Linked DNA regions of Homo sapiens. The protein of the gene in region 4 interacts with the protein of the main gene of each other region in a biochemical or structural test. Each region holds a gene or a part of one and is shown on either strand. Other genes may lie near its edges. The genes, in order: AP2B1, UNC5A, VASP and MAGED1.

What was found.
Region 1: the proteins of MAGED1 (region 4) and AP2B1 interact in a surface display test, tested with the Homo sapiens proteins (one large-scale study listed by IntAct).
Region 2: the proteins of MAGED1 (region 4) and UNC5A form a complex in vitro, tested with the Homo sapiens proteins (one study listed by BioGRID).
Region 3: the proteins of MAGED1 (region 4) and VASP interact in a test that uses a peptide from one of them, tested with the Homo sapiens proteins (one large-scale study listed by BioGRID and IntAct).

The regions. Positions count from the first base shown.
Region 1 is NC_000017.11:35,589,241-35,595,107, reverse strand, and holds part of AP2B1 (AP-2 complex subunit beta), read right to left. Parts: intron 1,101-5,867; 5' UTR 1,078-1,100; coding exon 1,041-1,077; intron 1-1,040. UniProt on the Homo sapiens protein: Component of the adaptor protein complex 2 (AP-2). Adaptor protein complexes function in protein transport via transport vesicles in different membrane traffic pathways.
Region 2 is NC_000005.10:176,809,234-176,813,358, reverse strand, and holds the start of UNC5A (netrin receptor UNC5A precursor), read right to left. Parts: upstream 2,801-4,125; 5' UTR 2,609-2,800; coding exon 2,539-2,608; intron 1-2,538. UniProt on the Homo sapiens protein: Receptor for netrin required for axon guidance. Functions in the netrin signaling pathway and promotes neurite outgrowth in response to NTN1. Mediates axon repulsion of neuronal growth cones in the developing nervous system in response to netrin.
Region 3 is NC_000019.10:45,516,990-45,522,856, reverse strand, and holds part of VASP (vasodilator-stimulated phosphoprotein), read right to left. Parts: intron 5,195-5,867; coding exon 5,023-5,194; intron 4,929-5,022; coding exon 4,763-4,928; intron 1,908-4,762; exon of another isoform or gene 1,614-1,907; intron 1,536-1,613; coding exon 1,451-1,535; intron 690-1,450; coding exon 640-689; intron 518-639; coding exon 276-517; intron 140-275; coding exon 39-139; intron 1-38. UniProt on the Homo sapiens protein: Ena/VASP proteins are actin-associated proteins involved in a range of processes dependent on cytoskeleton remodeling and cell polarity such as axon guidance, lamellipodial and filopodial dynamics, platelet activation and cell migration.
Region 4 is NC_000023.11:51,898,267-51,903,749, reverse strand, and holds the end of MAGED1 (melanoma-associated antigen D1), read right to left. Parts: intron 5,466-5,483; coding exon 5,423-5,465; intron 5,170-5,422; coding exon 5,107-5,169; intron 3,569-5,106; coding exon 3,454-3,568; intron 2,198-3,453; coding exon 1,820-2,197; 3' UTR 1,812-1,819; intron 1,605-1,811; 3' UTR 1,396-1,604; downstream 1-1,395. UniProt on the Homo sapiens protein: Involved in the apoptotic response after nerve growth factor (NGF) binding in neuronal cells. Inhibits cell cycle progression, and facilitates NGFR-mediated apoptosis. May act as a regulator of the function of DLX family members.

The DNA.
Region 1 (5,867 bases), on a different chromosome or scaffold from region 4:
GACATAATTAAGCAACTCACTGCAACAAGAGAAAAAGAAGAATGGTAGTTGGCGCCATGTCTGGAATACTTTGGTAAATGTAAGGACTCCTGAACACAAAAGCACAGAATTCTGATCCTAAGCAACAAATAAAGCAAGCTAAGCTACAGGCACAATAAGCTGAGATGGGCTAAAATGTTTGTCTTTGATGGGAAGACCCTCCACATTTCTAGAAATGATCTATTTTATTTAGGAACAATTTTACAAAAGATGAAGGGTTGGACTTTCCCCAGAAGAATCCTTTGTTCCTAGACCCAAACTCATAGGTAAAAACAAGCATTATATTACTGATAACAAAGATGATGAGAGTAATAAGTGCAAAGTCCCTCAAGTAATTCCGTCTATGACCTAAAAACCATAGATGGCTCTAGAGATTCCGTTTTAAATATACATCTAGACGAAGAACATGGTAGATGTATATGGACGGATATGAAAATAACTCATTTCTATTCATTGTTTTGCAAGATTGCTTTTTCATTAAAGATAAAAAAATTTTAAATCATATGTATTAATATATGCACTCATATGCAGAGAAAAAGACTTGAGGATATACACCAAGTTCCCTTGGGAATAGGAACAGGAAGGGAGAACTTTCATTTTTACCTTTTACATACATATCTGTATTGCTTTAATTGTATTCTTTGTTATAAAATGTTTATTTCCAAGTAAAAATTATTTAATAAAAGGGAAAAAGTATGCTGCTTCTTTTGTCCTCCTCACACTTAACCAATCTCCAATGGATCATCTCAAACAGCAAAGAGGAGTCTCTTTCACTAAACAGAACCTTCAAGTCATAATAATGTGCATCACAGCCCTCTCTTTTAAAACCTACTCTTTAATAACTTGCTTGAATACATTCATCTATAGAAGTAGTAGATGTCCAGTGAGATTGTCAGCTACATGTATGTCTGAAGGAAGAGGTCAGCAGCATTCTGCCTGGGGCAATCTTACACTACAACTTTTGAAAATTTCAAAAGATTTGATTGTATTCTCATACTTACCTTTTTTATTGGTTGTGAAATACTTGGAGTCAGTCATGACTTTGGATCTTTAATGTGCACCTATAGCAAGAGAAAAGAATTCCTTCATTCAGGTTATAGATATCCAACAAGGCATCCAATTAATTTTAAGAACATCCAATTAATTTTAGGAACACTTATATTTAAGAATTTCTAAAAATGAGTATCATCTTCCTTTATCACCACCGTTGATGGTTCAAGAAAAACTAAGAATGTAACTCCTCAAGCTAATGGGGCAAAAATCTAAAGGCCAAATGCAACTGGGTAAAAGTATGAACCTATTATGGCTTTGTGATTTTATCCACAGTAACTCCTCAAAGCTTTCAAGAGCTAAAGCTGGACCTTTTTATAAATATATCTGCAATTACTTTCCATTCAGGAAAATCTGGTAACTTCCTTGCCTCAAGCTGGAATCACTCCAAAACATATATTCTGAAGCAGTGTAAGGTCAAAAGAAAAAACAATTTTGCCGATCTATGACATGAAACTTTCAATAAAAAGAATCTCTTTCAGAAAAAAAAAATTCAAAATTAGTAGGACAATATTCTTTCACAACAAACATCTAGAGAGGCAACCATGACTTATGCATGGAATTTTTTTAATTTTTAGTTTTGTGGGTATTTAGTAGGTGCGTATAGGTACATGAGATATTTTGATAACAGGCAGACAATGCATAATAATTACATTAGTGTAAATGGGATATCCATCACCTCAAGCATTTATCCTTTCTTTGTATTATAAACAATTCAATTACATTCTTTTAGTTATTTTTAAATGTACAGTAAATTATTGTTGACCGCAGTCACCCTTTTGTGCTATCAAATACTAGATCTTATTCATTGTATCTAACTATATTTTTGGATTTAAAAAAAAATGTGGCTTTCTTACTTCCAACAATCCAGATTTAGCCCAAGAGTATTCCCAAATAATGCCAGTTTATAGTTAAAAACAAGGCAAAAGACTGAGACATCCGTTCAGACACGAGAATCAAACTGGTGTTGAAACAAAAGAACGTGGATCTCAACCTCAACCTTAACTCTTCCATCCCAATTTCCAGAAGAAGTAATCCAGATGACAAATGGCTCTACTAACAAAAACGGCACAGTCTGGTCACATTTTTACTAAATAATAAGACTACTTTTTCTGATTTGAGAAACTATAAGACTTTGTCCAATGTACCAGACTTCTTTAAATATATTAAAATTTTGGGGCCAGGCACAGTAGCTCACGCCTGTAATCCCAGCACTTTGTGAGGCTGCCGGGTGGATCACTTGAGGTCAGGAGTTCAAGACCAGCCTCGCCAACATGGTGAAATCCTGTCTCTGCTAAAAATACAAAATTTAGCTGGGCATGGTGGCACGTGCCTTTAATCCCAGCTACTTGGGAGGCTGAGGCAGGAGAATCGCTTGGACCTGGGAGGCGGAAGCTGCAGTAAGCCGAGATCACGCCACTGCACTCCAGCCTGGGCAACAGAGCAAAAGTCCATCTCAAATAAATAAATAAATAAATAGGAATTTGGGCCAGGCGCGGTGGCTCAGGCATGGTGGCATGTACCTGTAGTCTCAGCTACTTGGGAGGCTGAGGTGTGTGGATCGCTTGAGCTTAGGAGATCAAGGCTACAGGGAGCTATGATCTCACCACTGCACTCCAGCCTCAGCGACAGAGACCTTGTCTCAAGGGGAAAAAAATATATAAATATACATATATTTTTTAATAATATTCCTTCTGTACTCAAAATGAGTATCTTTTTCCTTATCACCATCACTAATAATACTTATCACCAACTTCAGGACAAGACATGCTGGCACCTGCTCATTATTATCAGGTCAATATGACATAATGTATTTGGCAAACAATAGTAAATATGGATCTAGGAGAAAAGACCTAAGCACCAAACAAATCAATGTAATTAAAGAAAAGAAAAAAGAGCCAGATAAACATAAAATAATGAAAAACTTCTGGTTCAAATCTGATCTCTAAAACGTGCTACTTGTACAGTTTAATGGAAATTAGACTCATTTGCTATCTTTCCAACCAGCTAATTACTATTTATAGTCTTGATCCTAATAGCTCTTTAGATTGTACCAGAAATTCACAGAATGATCTTGTTAAAAGAAGTGAGCTAGGACTCACAAATATCATTACAGAATATAGAAATTTCTCCTTTAATACTTGTTATAATTAAAAATTATACTGAAGCTTGCCTTATGCAATGTTTTTACAATGTGTTTCTAGCAAAAATTCAAAGAATGTTATAATCATTTAGTCCATTCATAATGTAAACTAAATGTGAAGTGGGCAAATGAAGAAAGGAATTCTTCACATAAAAGACCTGGAATAAATCTGAAGTTATTTATGAATGTATATATACAAACAGAAAAACCAGTAAACAGAAACGATTACTTGAGCCTCAAAGAAGGACTATAGCTCAAATCCATTACAATCTGTCTAGGATATTTACTATGCTATGCTATGTCCTTTAAAACTTGTTTAAGATTTTAAAACAAAACCTCCTTAGAATTTGTCACCCAATTTCTCTGAAAAGCCTCTTATACATACACATATTAAATTTTTTTTGGCCAGGCACGGTGGCTCACGCCTGTAATCCCAACACTTTGGGAGGACGAGGCGTGCGGATGGCTTGAGCTCAGGAGATCGAGACCAGTCTGGGGAACGTGGCGAAACTCCGTCTCTAATAAAAATACAAAAATTAGCCGGGCATGGTAGCACATGCCTGTAGTCCCAGCTGGGACTCACTGCAACATCTGCCTTCTGGGCTCAAGCAATCCTCCTGCCTCAGCCTCCCGAGTAGCTGGGACTACATGTTGGGATCACCGTGCCCAGCCCATTAAATTCTTTTTTTTTTTTTTTTTTTTTTGAGACAAAATCTCACTGTGGCCCAGGCTCCAGTGCAGTGGTTCAATTTGGGCTCACTCCAACCTTTGCCTCCCAGGTTCAAGTGATTCTCCTGCCTTAGCCTTCAGAGTAGCTGGGACTACAGGCACCCACTACCACGCCCAGCTAATTTTTGTATTTTAGTAGAGACAGGGTTTTTCCTTGTTAGCCAGGCTGGTCTGGAACTCCTGACATCAAGTTATCCATCCACCTCGGCCTCCCAAAGTGCTGGGATTACAGGCATGAGTAAATTCTTAACAGGCATTTTCACTACATTCTATTAAACAATAAATTAACCTAAGTCTTAAGTCATACCTTTATCAGTAGCTCACATATTTCATTATCTCCCCTAACAATTTCAATGTCAAGGAATATATTACTATCCTGTTCACTGTGAGCATTAAGTGTTCTTGTCTTAACTAGAAAATAATGCACCCACCCACAAAATTTCAGGGAAGAGAGGAGGGTCAAGTATCTTTAGAAGCCTATAAGATAGATTCTAAATTAAGAGTCCCTGCTGCTCTAAAGAGAAGGGATATCACTCTAGTAACCATATTGTAAACAATAGTAACAAAATATTCCCTAACCATATTGGCAGAGAAACATGGTGCCAAGCTGGTTCTTGCCTTAAGCCAAAAGAAACTCCAAGAAAAATGAAAATAGTGTAAATAAAAACAAATCAGAAGACATGATTGTTGCACAACACTGTCAGTGTACTAAATGCCACTGAACTGTATGCCTTAACCTGGTTAATTTTATGGTACGTGAATTTCACCTCAAAAAAAAATCACATATATATATGATTCAGTGTATCTCTCATATAATGAGTTCTCACCTCATATAATGAGAGATACACTTAATCACATGCTAGATATGGACATAGCCAGAGTCTCCAAAATACAGGATGGCAAAAACTGACGTCTTCATTAGAAGTTACAGCCGGTCGCGGTGGCTCACGCCTGTAATCCCAGCACTTTGGGAGGCGGGCGGATCACAAGGTCAGGAGATCGAGACCATCCTGGCTAACACGGTGAAACCCTGTCTCTACTAAAAATACAAAAAATTAGCCAGGCGTGTGGCGGGCGCCTGTAGTCCCAGCTACTCGGGAAGCTGAGACAGGAGAATGGTGTGAACCCAGGAGGCAGAGCTTGCAGTGAGCCGAGATCGCGCCACTGCACTCCAGCCTGGGCGAAAGAGTGAGACTCCGTCTCAAAAAAAAAAAAAAAAAAAGAAGTTACAGAAAAAGTAAACAAAATAGAGCTAAAGAAAAAAAAAATCTAATATTTGCTGAAGTGCCTCAAAAATCAAGCTGCTCCTATGGGGGGAGAAAATGTTCCTTCAGAAGAGCCAGAGAAATAAGCAAAGCCATGATGGAATTTGAACTCACACTACCTTTCTACCAGATCAAACCAGACAAGTAACGGCTGTTCTGAGGATTTACGGTATGGCCTAAGGCCACTGTTAAACAACAAAGCTGCCAGAGTCAAAGCACATAATCACTCTTACTTGCCCTCGACCAGAGTGTGATGTCACTGCATTTCGGAGAAGGCCTCCCTGCACAGGACTATATATCCAGATTTAACATAACCTAGTTTCTACCAAATATAGGTTGTCAAAGTCCCTCCTCTCCTATATCTCCCTCCAGTTCCCCAAAAGAGAAACTGAGCAGCAAAATAAGATTAATACCTTGGGTAGAATAAGGTCAGAAAAAAATTAATAGGGTCTTAATTCAAATGGCTCTCTGGGAAGCTAAATTAGTTTGTAAAGTCACTAAACCCTTCTTTTCACAAAGTGGGACTTTACAAAGCTCAGTGCTCATAGTGAAAAACTGGCCAAAGTTAACCAAATTATAAAGCAGAAATGTCATTCCAGTAATCTTTTATTATAAAGGTGAGAGGTGCCAAATTCATTTCT
Region 2 (4,125 bases), on a different chromosome or scaffold from region 4:
CAGGCTAGATGGTTGGGGTCAGGTTGGGCAATGCAGCAATGCCAGAGCATGGCACCCCTCAGCCCCATCTTCAAGGGAGCCAGCTCCCAAGTCCCTCCTGCTCAAGACTGCAGAGGTCTGGGTGACAGGGAGACCACAGGGGCAGGGTGGGGGTTTGCATGCCAGCTGCGTGACGGGGTTTGAGAGGGAAAATCCTGTGAGACAGATGGGTGCTTGCGTGCGCGGGCACAGAGAGGGCCTGCAGGTGCGAGCATGCTGAAGGGACAGGCTTTTGTGTGATGTCCAGCAACAGAGGGTGGGCGCGTGGCCTGGGGAGCAAGCGGCTGCAGTCAGTCGCGCTGGCCCCCGGCGCCCCCTGCTGCCCGCTGGCCATCCCTCCCTCAGCGGCTCACAGACACATTTTTCACCGGAGGCTGTTGCAACGGAGGCAAAAGGCAGCGCGGGAGGAGCCCGGGTCACGGCAGGGCCAGCCTGCCTGGGCGTCCACATGTGCCCAGTGCCTGTGGGGCACAGGGGGAAGGGAGTCCCAAAGAAGTAGGGCCAGCCCCTCCCCACCCCATGGCCTTCAGCAGCTCCTCCCGCAGGCCCAGGGGCAGAGTTGATGCCTTGGGGCAGGCTCTGCGTCAGCCCCTGCAGCACCTGTGCCCACCTGCCGACTCCCTGGGCAACCTTGGGCCAGGCCTCAACAGATGCCCTGCCAACCAGGGATGCAGTTTCCCCACCCCCACAGCCTCCTGAGGAGTCCCTGTGGCAACCCCCCGCTCCAGGCCGCAGCACCCTGCTTCACCGGTACCTGTGCCCCCTTATCTGTACACGCTCACCTGTGCAACTGCACACAGCCGTCACACACGTGCGGCATGCTGGTCATCACACACGTTCATCAGGGCACACACATGCCAATGCTGCACACACCATGCCAACCCCCCTGGTTACCCGGGCACACATGTCAACCCACAGCCTTCACACGTGCTCACGTGGGCGACATGCAGCTATGACCACACAGCCCTCAAAAGCATCAACTCAGAAAACATTTCCAGGGTACCTACTGGGTGTCAGGCAACACCCCACCTGTGTGTGGGGCACTAATATCCCCACCTCATCATGGACAACAGTGCAACCTGCACCCGGGTGCTCATCTGCGGAGCTGCACACACGCCCCTAACACACACATGTGGCGGACACGGACACACACCCAACAGCAGTTCAGCCTCTCAGCTTGGTCAGGATTAGAAGGAGAGGCCCTGGGGAAGAAGAGGGGTGCTGATGGAGAAGGGAGATAGAAGGGGTGGGATGGAGTAGAGAGGGGTACTGAGGAGGCAGGATGGGGCGGGCGGTCAGGCAGTGGTGGGTGCAGGATGCGCTGCGCAGAGACACCCTTTAAGGAAACAGCCATCGGCCTCAATCATCAGGCTGGCTCCTGAGCTCCCACTCATTGATCTCTGATCAATCTGGTTTGGCAGCTCAGAAACCCCAGTGCTCCCTTCCAACACCCCTGTTATAAGCAGCGGCCTGGCCAGGCTGGGGAGTAACCGCCCAGGTTCTAGGGGCAGCAAGAATCGAGAATTGCCAGGGTAAGCCTCAAGCCCCCTTGACCACACAAATGGCACCCACCCCCCACCACCACAGACACATACGCTCAACTCAGCTAAGTGCATGGGGGGCAGAGATCAGGAGGCCCCCACAGCTCAGCCTAGGTGAAGGCTCAGGGACAGCAGACAAAGGATGCAGGGGAACTTCCTCCCCCCAAGCCCCTCCCAAGGGAATGAGGTGGGCTGAGGGCTGAGTTAGCAGTGGGTTAGGGTGACCAATGGGGCATGCAGGGGCCAAGAAAGGCTATGGAGTTTAAGGAAGAAGGGGAAACTGGCGGACCAACCACACACAACTCTGGCCCCCCGCACCAGGGAGGCCAGGAGCCACAGCCCCGGCCACCGGGACCGCGGCGCTTTGACTGTGCTGGCTGCAAGGACTGGGGGCTGGTGTATGCGCCTCCACGCCTGAGTGTGTGCGTGTGAGAGCGTGTGTGGCGGGGACAGAGGAGGACACTGTGTTCTGGACGTGGGCAGAGGCCAGGTGCCAAGCTGGGAGATTGTGAGTGGCTGTTTAGGGCAGATGCTACCGGGAAGAGGTATCTTAAACGTTCCCCGCACCCCCCATTTCCTGGGCACTGGGATAGGCTCAAAACCCTCTAATCTTCGAATCCTCAAAGTCAGGCTCCCTGGGGTTGATCCAAACCCCCAGCCCTGCTCCGGGCCCAGGCAACCAGCAAACTTCCCCCACCCGGAGGCGTGGGGTGTCTACACTCGCCAGCCCCGCGGGCTGACAGCTGCTCCTGGACTTGGCAGAACCCAGGCTTCCGGGAGAGCGCGCGGGGAAGCTGCGCAGCAGCAAGAAGAGCCCCCCGCGTCCCGCCTCGCAAAGTTTGGCCTCGGGGGGCTCCCAGCCGGGTCTGGCAGCGCTGGTCAGGGACCCCCAGAGCAGCGAGCGTTCGCGCGCACGGTCCCCCGCAAGCCTCCCCAGAGCGCGCGCGGCGTGACTCACCCGAGCCGCGGAGCCAAGCGGCGAGGACTATGCCCAGGAGCGCTGGCCACAGGCCGGGCCGGACGGCCATGGCCGCGGGCGGGCAGGCGGGCGGGCCGGGCGCGGGGCCCCGCGGGCGGGAGGGCGGCTTTAGCGCCTCAGCCCGGAGCCCCAGCTCGGGGCGCCCCCGGGGCCCATGCCAGCGGACTGCGCTGCCTCCGGGCGGCCGGCTGCCGGGCGCACGCGGCGCGTGGCTCCCTTGGGCACGGGAGCGCAGCAATGCAGCCGGGGCGGAGCGCAGCGCCAGCCGCGCCGCGCACCGAGCCAGCCGCGCCGCGGAGCCCGCAGCCGGAGAGCGGGCCGGTGGGCGCCGCAAAACCCGGACTGGAGCGACGGAGCGGGGCGGCGGCTGGGAGGGGCGGGGGAAGGAAGGAGGGGCCGGGCCGCCCCGCGCAGCGCGCGCGGGCCACCCCCAGCACCGGGAATCCCTCTGGGCGATGCCTGAGGCTCCCCCAGGGAGGGGCTTGGGGTGGTGGGCGTGGAGGCCTCCCACCGCCCCGCGGGGTCTCCAGGGACAGGGGCAGGAGTCTGAAACCCGGAGTGGATCGGTGCTCCGGATCCGGGCTCTCGCGGGCCCGCCAGTCTGCGCACAGGTGGCCCGGGAGGGGCCCGGGGCTGCGGCGACCCCGGCGCGGCGCCAGCCTGCGGAGAGCCGCCCAGGGCAGGGGTGCCCCGGGCAGGTTCCGCTGCAGTCCTCTCCCCCGCCCTTTCCTCGCGGCCGCGCTCCGGGGTCGTCCGGGCGCCGCGGTACGCTGCCAGCCCGCGGCTTGGTTAGGGGACTGCGGGAGAGCCCCGGGGCCCTGGCCCGCGCGCAGAGGTGCCCTGGCCACCAGAGCTGGCAGGCCAGACTCGGGGACACCCGCAGTCCCAGCCTCGCAGGCTGGTGGATTCCAGGGGCGCGCCTCACACCATGACCCAAGGTTTCCCTAACCCCTCGGCGCCGTTCGCCGAAGGAAAACAACCTTCAGGCGCAGCACACCCGACTGGGCGCGCGGTGTTTGAGCCCCGAGAGCGCACGGCGCCCGCGACGTGGGTGTAAAGGAACGAGCTGGGCTTTGGCAGCTAGGGAGACCGGGGGTAGGGTCCAGGCGACTTCACCTTCCAGCTCTGTGACCTTGGTCAAGTCACGTCGTCTCCTGGAGCCTCCAGCAGTGACCGCTGCTGGAGTCTCCTGTGCCCCACCCCCATTCCCTAATCGGGTTAAAATAAACAGAGGGCTGCCTTGAAGGAGAAAGGAAATGACAGCCGCGTGCGGTGTGCCTGGGGGGAGTGATCGGAAAAAGAGAGGGTCCTAGTCTGGGTCGGGAGGGGAATGAGCAGGGTGAGGGCAGGGTCGCAAACTCAAACGCCTACGGGGCCGGTCGATAATATAAATTGGCGCTGCAGGCTAGGCGATGTAAGGGATGGTCTTGCTTCCACAAAGAGATATGAGCTCTCCTATATTTCTTGAGACACGAGGCCCTCTCTCGGTCTGTCTTTTGTTTCCCACTTTTGATAGAGAAGGGTTATGAAAAATGTTTTGCTTTCCTCTTAAGTCTACTATAAAAA
Region 3 (5,867 bases), on a different chromosome or scaffold from region 4:
GAACTCCAGGTGACTTGGGGGTCCAGGCTCAGGCTCACCTCCGGGCCAGCATGGCGTTCATCTCTTCCATGAGTCCCCCACCTCCGCTTCGACCACTCTCAGCTTTGGGGGCTGTGGGCCCCCCTGAGGCCTCCTCCTGCTGGAGAAATTTAAAAGGGGCAGGAGCTTTAGGGGCAGGCCTTTTGGCCTTCCAGCCCAATGACACCGCCGGCAGCCCTGGCCTCATCCCCCATAAAAGCCCTGTTGCCCCCTGCCCACCTCTCCCGGCCCCTCACCTTGCTGACTTTCCTGAGTTTGGCTCCAGCAATAGCTGCGGCCAGGCCTGGGGCCCCAGCTCCCCCACCACCAGGGCCCTGTGCTGCCGGGAGAGGGGGTGCAGGGGGTGGTCCTCCCCCTGCTCCGTGCGCTGCAGCTGGGACCCCCGAAGGGGGCAAACCTGGGGGTGGGGGGGGACCTGGAGGAGGGGGAGGTCCTGGTGGTGGGGGTGGACCCCCAGCGGGGGGAGCAGGTGGGCCTCCTGAAACAAACACAGAAAAGGGGGCAGCTGAGAGAGAGAAGCCTCATTCTTCACTGTCCAGCTGGCTGGCCACTTCCTCCAGGGAGGCCCCCTCCCAACTCCCGAAGCTATCTGAGCATCACCTGCATTGGAGACCCGGCGCTCTATGTGCTCCGACGGGCCGGGCTGCTGCCTGTGGGGGGAGGCGAGAGAGCTGCCGTCAATCAGGGCCCTAAGGATGGCCAGCGAAGGGGCCAGCGACCTCCGTCCTCTCTCTCAGAGGTCTCCAGGGTGGCTGGCTCCTAATACTCACCCAAGCCTTCCTCCCCTAGGGAACCAAGAAGGGGGCTGGGTGAGAGTAGGGGGAATGGAGGGCAGGGCAGCGACAGGGAGAGATCAGGATGCGAGATCCCAGTCACTAAACTGTCAGGAACACCGAATTACAAAATGCCCAAGATTCTTTCTTTTCTTTTTTTTTTTTTGAGACTCTGTCACCCAGGCTGGAGTGCAGTGGCTCGATCTTGGCTCACTGCAACCTCTGCCTCCCGGGTTCAAGCGATTCTCCTGCCTCGGCCTGCCGAGCTGGGATTACAGGCACGGGCGCCACCATGACCGGCTAATTTTTGTTATCTTCAGTAGAGACGGGATTTCGCCATGTTGGCCAGGCTGGTCTCAAACTCCTGACCTCAGGCGATCTGCCCGCCTCGGCCTCCCAGAGTGCTGGGATTACAGGCGTGAGCCACCACGCCCAGCCACAAGATTCTTTCAACCACCATATTCTGATTTCCAGGAATCTGCAGGGACCAGGAGGTTCTGCAACTCTGAGTGTCAGAAGTTTCTTGAACATTCTGAAAACTGCAAGTTGGCTGGGTTCTGAACTCTAGGAGTCAAGGGTTCCAGAACATATGGAACTCTGGCAGCGGCTAAGGTTCCCCACCCAGGGCCCAGCCCCACCTTTTCTGCTGCTCCACCTCCTCCGGGGAGGGGCCGTTCGGGACCGACCAGGTGGGAAGTGCTGGGGGTGGAGGGGGCCCACCTCCTGAAAGGTGAGAGAGAAAGGGCCATGGATCAGTCCCAGAACTCTGCTCAGCTCTTGGCGCTTCCCTTGCTCTCCCAGGCCTCCCAGGAATCCTGCCCAGAGGCGCTCACTTCCTCCTTCCAGAGGCCCTGAGGCTCCAGGCCCAGGAGGACGCACATTGGGAGGTGAGGCAGCACCAACTTCCCTGGCCTGAGTTGCCCTAAGGTAGGTGCTGTTGTGATGTCCCAGTGACAGGAGAAGCTAAGGCCCGGGGAACAGTCACTTGCCCCAGATTTCTCCAGGGTGGAATGTGCAGGAACAAGACTTGAATTCAGGCTGATTCCAGCAGCCAGGCTCTTAACCACTGTTGGTTTGTTTCGAGACAGAGTCTCACTCTGTCACCCAGGCTGGAGTGCAGCAGTGCAATCACGGCTCACCACAGCCTCCACCTCCCGGGTTCAAGAGATTCTCCTGCCTCAGCCTCCTGAGTAGCTGGGATTACAGGCGCCTGCCACCATGCCTGGCTAATTTTTGTATTTTTAATAGAGATGGGATTTCACCATGTTGGCTAGGCTGGTCTCGAACTCCTGACCTCAAGTGATCCACTTGCCTCAGCCTCCCAAAGTGCTGAGATTACAGGCGTGAGCCACCGCACCTGGCCCCTGGCTAGCTCTTAACCACTGTTACAGCCACTTGGACCTTACCTAAGAACCTGGAAAGGTAAAGAGCTTCTTCCTCACCTACCTCCAGGCCTCTGGCCCTAGCACCTGAATTGAATTGGCTACGAATTAACAATGAATTAGCCCCAATTTACAGATGACTCAACTGAAGCCCACTGTATTTTTCTGTGTGCCCCAGAGGAGCAAGCCCCTTCCGCACTAGCACAGAAGTTGTCCCACGAAGCAAACACCCCTGCATTTGGTGACTTTCAGTTCTACAGCAGTGATTCCAGGCCAGATGCACGGCAGTCACCTAAAACCTCACTACTCAGTCACGTCCGCAGACCAGCAGCCTGGGTATCACCAGGGCACTTGTGAGAATGTGGAGTCTCAGTCCGCCCAGCCCACCTGCACCAGAGCCTGCACTTTAACCAGATCCCCAGGTGATTCATGTGCACGTTAAGGTTTAAGAAATAGCAACTGGGCTGGGCGCGTGACTCGCGCCTGTAATCTCAGCACTCTGGGAGGCCGAGGCGAGTGGATCACCTGAGGTCAGGAGTTCGAGACCAGCCTGGCCAACACTGCGAAACCCCGTCTCTACTAAAACTACAAAAATTAGACAGGCATGTTGGTGCACACCTATAGTTCCATCTACTCAGGAGGCTGAGGCAGAATTGCTTAAACTCAGGAGGCGGAGGTTGCAGTGAACTGAGATCACACCACTGCACTCCAGCCTGAGAGACAGAGTGAGACTCCATATTAAAAAAAAAAAAAAAAAAAAAAAAAAAAGGCCGGGCGCAGTGGCTCACGCCTGTAATCCCAGCACTTTCGGAGGCCGAGGCGGGCGGATCACGAGGTCAGGAGATCGAGACCATCCTGGCTAACACGGTGAAATCCCGTCTCTACTAAAAATACAAAAAATTAGCTGGATGTGGTGGCGGGTGCCTGTAGTCCCAGCTACTCGGGAGGCTGAGGCAGGAGAATGGCATTTACCCGGGAGGCAGAGCTTGCAGCGAGCGGAGATCGCGCCACTGCACTCCAACCTGGGGACAGAGCGAGACTCCGTCTCCAAAAAAAAAAAAAAAAAGCAACTGGGCTGGGTGTAGTGGCTCATGCCTGTAATCCCAGCACTTTAGGAGGCTGAAGTGGGAGGATCACTTGAGCCCAGGAGTTCAAGACCAGCCTGTAGACCATCTCCACAAAAAGTAAAAAAAAAAAAAAAATTTGAAATGATCCAGGTGGCCAGACATGGTGGCTCACACTTATAATCCCAGCACTTTGGGAGGCAGAGGCAGGTGGATCACTTGAGGCCAGGAGTTTGAAACCAGCCTGGCCAATATGGTGAAACCCCTTCTCTACTAAAATACAAGGGCCGGGCATGGTGTCTCATGCCTGTAATCCCAGCACTCTGGGAGGCCTAGGCGGGCGGATCACAAGGTCAGGAGATAGAGACCATCCTGGCTAACACGGTGAAACCTTGTCTCTACTAAAGATACAAAAAATTACCCGGGTGTGGTGGCTCACGCCTATAGTCCCAGCTACTCGGGAGGCTAGGGCAGGAGAATCGCTTGAACCCGGGAGGCGGAGGTTGCAGTGAGGCAATATCGTGCCACTGCACTCCAGCCTGGGCAACAGAGTGAGACTCTGTCTCAAAAAAATAAAAATAAAAACAAAATACAAAAAAATAGCTTGGGCATGGTGGCACATGCCTGTAATCCCAGCTACTCAGGAGGCTGAGGCACGAGAATCACGCGAACCCGGGAGGTGGAGGTTGCAGTGAGCTGAGGTTGCACCACTGCACTCCAGCCTGGGTGACAGAGCAAGACTCTGTCTCAAAAAACAAAACAAAAAAAGAGCCAAGTATGGTGGTGCACACCTGTATTCCCAGCTACTTAGGAGGCTGAGGCAAGAGGATCACTTGAGCCCAGGAGGTGAAGGCTGCAGAGAGCCATGATTGTGCCAGTGCACACCAGCCTGGGCAACAGAGCGAGATCCTGTTTCTGGGGCAGGACCTACCTATGTCTTGATCTGGGAGGTGGTTTCCCGGGAGTGTGCCTGTGTAAAGTTCATGGAGTACTGATCCCTGAGTAATCGTGCATTTTTTTTGTGTTTGTTTTCTTTCTGAGACGGAATCTTGCTCTGTCGCCAGGCTGAAGTGCAGTGGCCTGATCTCGGCTCACTGCAACCTCTATCTCCTGGGTTCAAACACTTCTCGTCCCTCAGCATCCCGAATAGCTGGGATTACAGGCGCGCACCACCACGCCCAGCTAATTTTTGAATTTTAATAGAGACGCAATTTCACCATGTTGGGCACGGTGAAACTCCTGACCTCAGGTAATCCGTGTGCCTCGGCCTCCCAAAGTGCTGAGATTACAGGCATGAGCCACGGCGCCGGGCCAATGGTGCATTTTACACATAGGTGCACACGGTCACACTGGAATGCACAAAATGCTAGTGATAATTTTCCATGATAACAATGAATTCGCTCTATTTTACCGACGAGTAAACCAAGTCCCAGCAGGGTAAAGCGGCAGCCCCAGGCCACACAGCCGCATTCACTGGTCCCCTTTGCCCGCCGCCATTTCTGACCTTCCAACGCCTCTAGGGCACTGGCCATGCCGGCGGCAAACTGGGCCGCATCCTCCTTGCTGCCGAAGTTGAGGCCCCAGACCTGGCGAGCGTCGCGCCACTGATGGAAGTTGGGGGTGGCCTGGTTATACTTGACACCCCGGACGATGGCACAGTTGATGACCACCTGGTGGGAGGGGAAAGGGGGGTGAGGGGCGGCGGGCGCAGGGGTGGGGCGGGTAGGGGTTCAGCCCACAGAGGGGGCCGGCGGGAAGCTGCACCTGCTGGTCGGGCTGCATCTTCCGGCCCACGACGCGAAAGGAATTGGCCGTGGGGTTGTGGTAGATCTGGACGCGGCTGAAGGCCTGGGGACCCGTGCCAGCAGGGAGCCATCGCTTGTTGCCATCATCATAAAGCATCACAGTGGCCCGGCTGGAACAGATGACCGTCTCGCTGCAGGCGGGAGGAAAAGGGAGAGGGGCCGGTCACCTTCTTATCTGGGTCTCTCCTGGGAGATTCCAAGGGACAAAGACAGTGTGTGGAAGGAAGAGAGTGACACAGAGGGAGGCAGGAGCCACGTGGACAGAAGGAGACGGGGGAGACAGATCAGGAGAGAAAATCAGATCAGGAGAGACAGGCAAACACACAAACGAGATGCAAGAGACAGACGCAGAGAGAGGTGGGAAAGGGAGAGTCGGGTTGACAAAGAGGAGAGACAGACTGAAGGCAGACAGACAGATGAACAGATGGGGGAGGGGTGGGGAAAAAGGATGGGCAGACAGGGGACCTGGAGGAAGAGGCAGACACAGAAAGAGATAAAGATGGTCTTGGCGTGGTGTCTCACACCTGTAATCCCAGCACTTTGGAGGTTGAGGCAGGAGGATCACTTGAGCCCAAGCATTTCAGAGCAGCCTGGGCAACATAGTGAGACCCCATCTCTAATAATAATAATTATTATTATTATTTTTATTTTTGTTTTTGAGACAGAGTCTTGCTCTCTGTCACCCAGGTTGGAATGTGGCCTCGACCTCCTGAGCTCAAGCGATCCTCCCACTTCAGCCTCCCAAGTAGCTGGGACTACAAGCATGCACCACCACACCCGACTAATCTTTTTTTTTTTTTTTTT
Region 4 (5,483 bases):
ACACAGCACATGGTGGAAGCACCTTCTCCACAGAAAGACTGCCCCAACCCCACCGAGCCTGGGTGTTTTGCACCAAAAGGTGGAAAAAACAGCACCCAGAAATGCAGGAACTACAGCCCAGACCTGAGGCATCATGGAGATGCAGGGCTGGTGCAATCCCTGCCAAAAAGGCCTCAGGCTGAGATTTCCTCCAGGCCTACCTGAGGGTCAGGATCCAGGCCTGGCTGAAAGAGGGGAGCCTGGCAATGAGGACAACAGGCAGGGGAGGCGTTGGGGCCCTGCACTGCTGTCTCCTTCCTATTAATCCTGGGCTCTCTCCTCAGAATGTGGACATCACTCAGGAACCTAAGGAAGCTGTGGACACCATCCCTACCCACTACCAAACCCTTCCCAGGAGGCCAAATTGCCTTTGCTCTTTTTTGTGCCCCAGGAGCTCCCGTCTCTGCCCTTGTCCACATGTCCAGATACCACCAAGCACCCAAGGAAGTCATGGCCTAGGCCTAATTTTGTCCTCAGTGGGAGAGCCTTGCTTCCAGCATAGAACTCAGCAGCTCAAGCCAAGTTCCTGCTCACAGTCACAGTCAAAGCCTGTGCATGGAGCTTTGTCTTACTTTGTAATTCTTGTTCTTGAGGTAACAAAGTCTTCTCTTTCTCCCTGCAGGAGAGAAGAGGCCATTGTGAGGCCTCCTTCACTGCCCATAAGATCCTGTCTCGAGGAGGCAGCCCCGGTCCTGTGCAAGTGGGAAGATTGTGAGGGCCTCCTAGAGGGACAGGATCCTGGGCAGCATTTCCAGAGATGGGGAGGAGTGCCTGTGAGCCCATCCCTTTATGAGCAATGTGGCTAGGGGTATATCTTCCTTCTCACAGAGGAGACTCTGGCATCTAACTCATAGTGTTCTCTACTCCTACTCCTGCTGCCCTCCTGGAGTTCTTTCACTTTCCACATGGGTTGTATAACCAACACCCTAGAATCACAGGCCATGGACCCCTTATCTCCAGAATAGTCACCTTCTGTCCCCTTCAACTACCTACTCTCTGGACCTTATCATCACCTGGAGCTCCACCTCCTCTGTGTTCTTAAGTGCAACTGTCTGAGCACCAATACCCTCTCTCACTATGCGACTTCTCGCAATGTCACTCCAAGACACCTAGCAGCATATCTATCACATGAGAGTCACTTAAGTGATATTTATTGAATAAACTATACTAGTTCTTGGGTCTCGTGTTCATTGATCCTGCCTTTGTATCCCAATCCAGTAGCTAGATCTTCCCACATTTCCACCTGCTGAAAGCTGATCTACCCTTCAAACTACAGCTGAGGTCCTGTCTCTCCCACATAAACATGTTGCTCGCTCCCCAAATATAGGGAAAAAAAGAAGCAGAGAGCACATCTAATTCACTTTGCAATTTCAATGTTTATTTCTGATACCAAAACTTGACAGCACACAAGGGGAAAAAAAGCAGTAGACAAGGAACAGCAAATAAATTTATCTTGCATGCCACTTTCAGTCAACAGGATGTGGCTCTCTAGATAGCTGTGTTTAGAAGGAATCTGAGGCTTCAGCCTCACACAGGGGAAAGACTACTGCGATTGATAGCAATATCTGTGAACATAAGAAAGAAGAAGTAAAAAAATCAATGATATATATCAAATAATAAGGAATATACATACCAAAGAGTGCTGCCCCATACTTTCCTCATCTCCCTACAATGAGTTTCCTAATACTTCTAGCTCATGCACATAAATACAACCCCATGGACCCTATATCCCCCAGAGACCCTAACTGCCCAATCCAAAGTGATGTACCTACCCAACATCTCACTCAACCCAGAAGAAACCAATGGCACCAAAGTTGGCAGCGAAGTTGGCACTGGCTGTACCACCAGGACCAATAATGGGACCGGCAAAGGTCTGAGGGAATCTGGAGCGGGCATTCTGGTGGTATCTGGCCCAGAAGGTAAATGGAATTCTGGACCAGGGATCTCCAAAATCTCCTTCCTCATCCCAGGTCAGCAGCTCAAACTCAATGTCATCCCAGCTCCAGGGCCCAGACACAGCCTCATCTCCAATTCCCATGCGGGTTCTTGCTTCAGCCCGGGCTTCGGCCTCAGCTGCAGCAGCATCCAGAGCATCCAAGGCCTCATCTGCAGCCTCCATGAACTGTGCAGTCCAGTCACGAGGGTCTCTTTTCTGAACCTGAGATGAGGAATAGAAAACAAAACAAAATCCATTTACAATAGCCAAGATATGGAATCAACCTACCTGTCCATCAGTGGATGAATGGATAAGGACAATGTGATACACACACACACAATGGAATACTATTCAGCCTTTAAAAAGAAGGAAATTCTGCCATTTGCAACAACATAGATGATGCTGGATGACATTATGCTAAGTGAAATAAGCCAGACACAGAAAGACAAATACTGCATGACCTCACTTATACATGGAATCTAAAAACGTCTAACTCATAGAAGCAGAGAGTAGAATGGTAGTTTCCAGGGCCTGGGGTCAGGAGGGATAGGGAGATATCGGTTAAAAGGTACAAAGTTTCATTTAGATAGGAAGAATATGTTCTGGAGATCAACCGTATAGCATGACGACTATAGTTAATAATAATGTGTCGTTTATTTAAAATTGCTAAAAGAGTACATTTTAAATGTTCTCATCACAAAAAAAATGTCAAGTATATGAGGCTATGGAGAGTTAACTAGCTTGATGTAATCATTCTGCAATGTACATGTATTATCAAAACATCATACTGTACCCCATAAATATGTATATTTTTTATTAGTCAGTTAAAAATAAATGAATGGGCCGGGTACGGTGGCTCACGCCTGTAATCCCAACACTTTGGGAGGCTGAGGCAGGCAGATCACTTGAGGTCAGGAGTTTGAGACCAGCCTGGCTAACATGGCAAAACCCTGTCTCTAATAGAAAAATAAAAATTTAGCCAGGCATGGTGGTGGCACGTGCCTGTAATCCCAGATACTTGGGAGGCTGAGGCACAAGAATCGCTTTAACCTGGGAGGCAGAGGTTGCAGTGAGCCAAGATTGCGCCACTGCACTCTAGCCTGGGCAACACAGCAAAACTCCATCTCGGGAGAAAACAAATAAATAAATAAATAAAACAAAATACTTAAAAATTACATTGTACACCACAAATATATACAATTTTTGTCAATTATAATTTAGTAAAGTTGGGAAAAAATAAAAATACTTTAAAAACCTAAAAAAAAACCCAAAACAAACTCATAATTGTATTAGCTAATATATTAACATATGTTAGCACCTAATACATGTTAAGTTTACCTAACAGCAACAACAAATACCACCAGCAATGCGGCACCTACCACCTGCCACACCTAGGATCTCATTCCTACCCTGGGCCTTTCCCAGCCAGCTATACTTCATCCCTTGACCTATCAATGCTGGAACAGTTCCTCCATTACCTCTGCAATGAATCTCAGCACTTTCATCTTGCTAGTCTCATGGTAGGAACGGAGGCCCCAGAGGAACTCATACTCCGGGGGGTTGCTGTTGGGCACTCGTCTGTAGTCCAGGTATCTGAAAGAGCAAAACAGTCTTTGTGTCTACCTACCCAGGCAGAATGGTAGTCCACTAATGAAAAATAATCTTACATTTTTTAACAGATTTCAGATAGCAACTCCCCCTTGGGCTCATTCCTGAACACCATCAGGGTATTTACCCCTTAATCATCAAGCCTTAAATTCCTGCACTAGAACGCTAAGCACTCACTAGAGATGCAGGCGAGGCTTGTATAGGGTCACAGAAAGGACAACATTTCCTTTCACTCCTTCTGCCTCAGCTCTAGCTCCAGATTCTTGTAATCTTGTCAGTGAGCCACAGAGGTCCATTGAAATGAGTACAATGCAGTGCAAAAGTGTCAGCCTGGCCCAGCCTTGGGAATGTCTACTGTGGGGATGGTGGATGGGCTTCACTTGCAAGACAACTGCTTAGAAAAGTAGAAAAATTAGAAAAATTCTGGCCGGGTGTGGTGGCTCACACCTGTAATCCCAGCACTTTGGGAGGCAGAGGTGGGTGGATTGCTTCAGGTCAGGAGTTTGAGACCAGCCTGGCCAACGTGGTGAAGCCCCATCTCTACTAAAAATACAAAAACAGCCGGGCACGGTGGCACGCACCTGAAGTTCCAGTTACTCGGGAGGCTGAGGCACAAGAATTGCTTGAACCTGGGAGGTGGAAGTTCAAGCGAGCCAAGATTGCACCACTGCACTCCAGCATGGGCAACAGAGTGAGACTCAGTCTCGAAAAAAACAAACAAAAGAATTCGCCCGGTACGGTCGCTCACGCCTGTAATCTCAGCACTTCTGGAGGCCAAGGCAGGCAGATCACCTGAAGTCGGGAGTTTGAGACCAGCCTAACATGGAGAAACACCGTCTCTACTAAGAAGACAAAATTAGGTGGGCGTGGTGGCACATGCCTGTAATCCCAGCTACTCAAGAGGCTGAGGCAGGAGAATAGCTTGAACCCAGGAGGCAGAGGTTGCGGTGAGCCGAGATCACGCCATTGCACTCCAGCCTGGGCAACAAGAGCGAAACTCCGTCTCAAAAAATAAAAAAATAAAAAATAAAGAATTTAACCATGAGGAGTATATGCAATAAATACTCCTGAGGACATAAGTGTTTCTGTATGCACAGAAACACATATGCACAAGTATAGTGTAAGAAACGAGCTTGAGAAGGGCTTTCTTTTATTTTTTTTGAGACAGGGTCTCACTCTGTTGCCCAGGTTGGAGTGCAGTGGCATGATCACAGCTCACTGCAGCCTCAACTTCCTGGGCTCAGATGATTCTCCCCTACCTCAGCCTCCCAAGTAGCTGGGACTACAGGTGCATGTCACCACGCCTGGCTAATTTTTGTATTTTTTTGTAGAGATGGGGTTTCGTTATGTTGCCCAGGCTGGTCTTGAACTCCTGGGCTCAAGCGATCTGCCCACCTGAGCCTCCCAAAGTACTGGGATTACAGGCATGAGCCATTGTATCCAGCCAGGAAGGGCTTTCTAAAGCTGACCAGCACACAGGCAGAATCATAAGAAGCAGGAAAAGCCCCTTAGGCATCACTTACTTCTGCTTTACAAACTCATAGGTGAGAAGTTTCCTTAGATCTCCAAGGAGGGGATGTCTCACCCTGAAGGTAAAAAAAGGAAACCCACAATCAGAGGCTATTACCATGCCCAAAGAGCTTTCCAGAACAGAGGTCAGAGATGAGAAAAGAGGCAGAGAGTTCAGAACTGTTTCCCCATCCACCCAGGTCACATCTTTGGGCTCTGAACATCCCCAAACCAAACCCTCCAGACCCCCAGGTTAATGCAATCCTGGGACCATCCACTGTTGCCAAAGGATGGCACAAACAGGCAAGAGATGAGAGAGCCCAATCATACCCAGGACGCAGTCCCATCTTGCGTAGTGCCTCCCAGAGGACAGCTGCAATGGGAGGCAAGG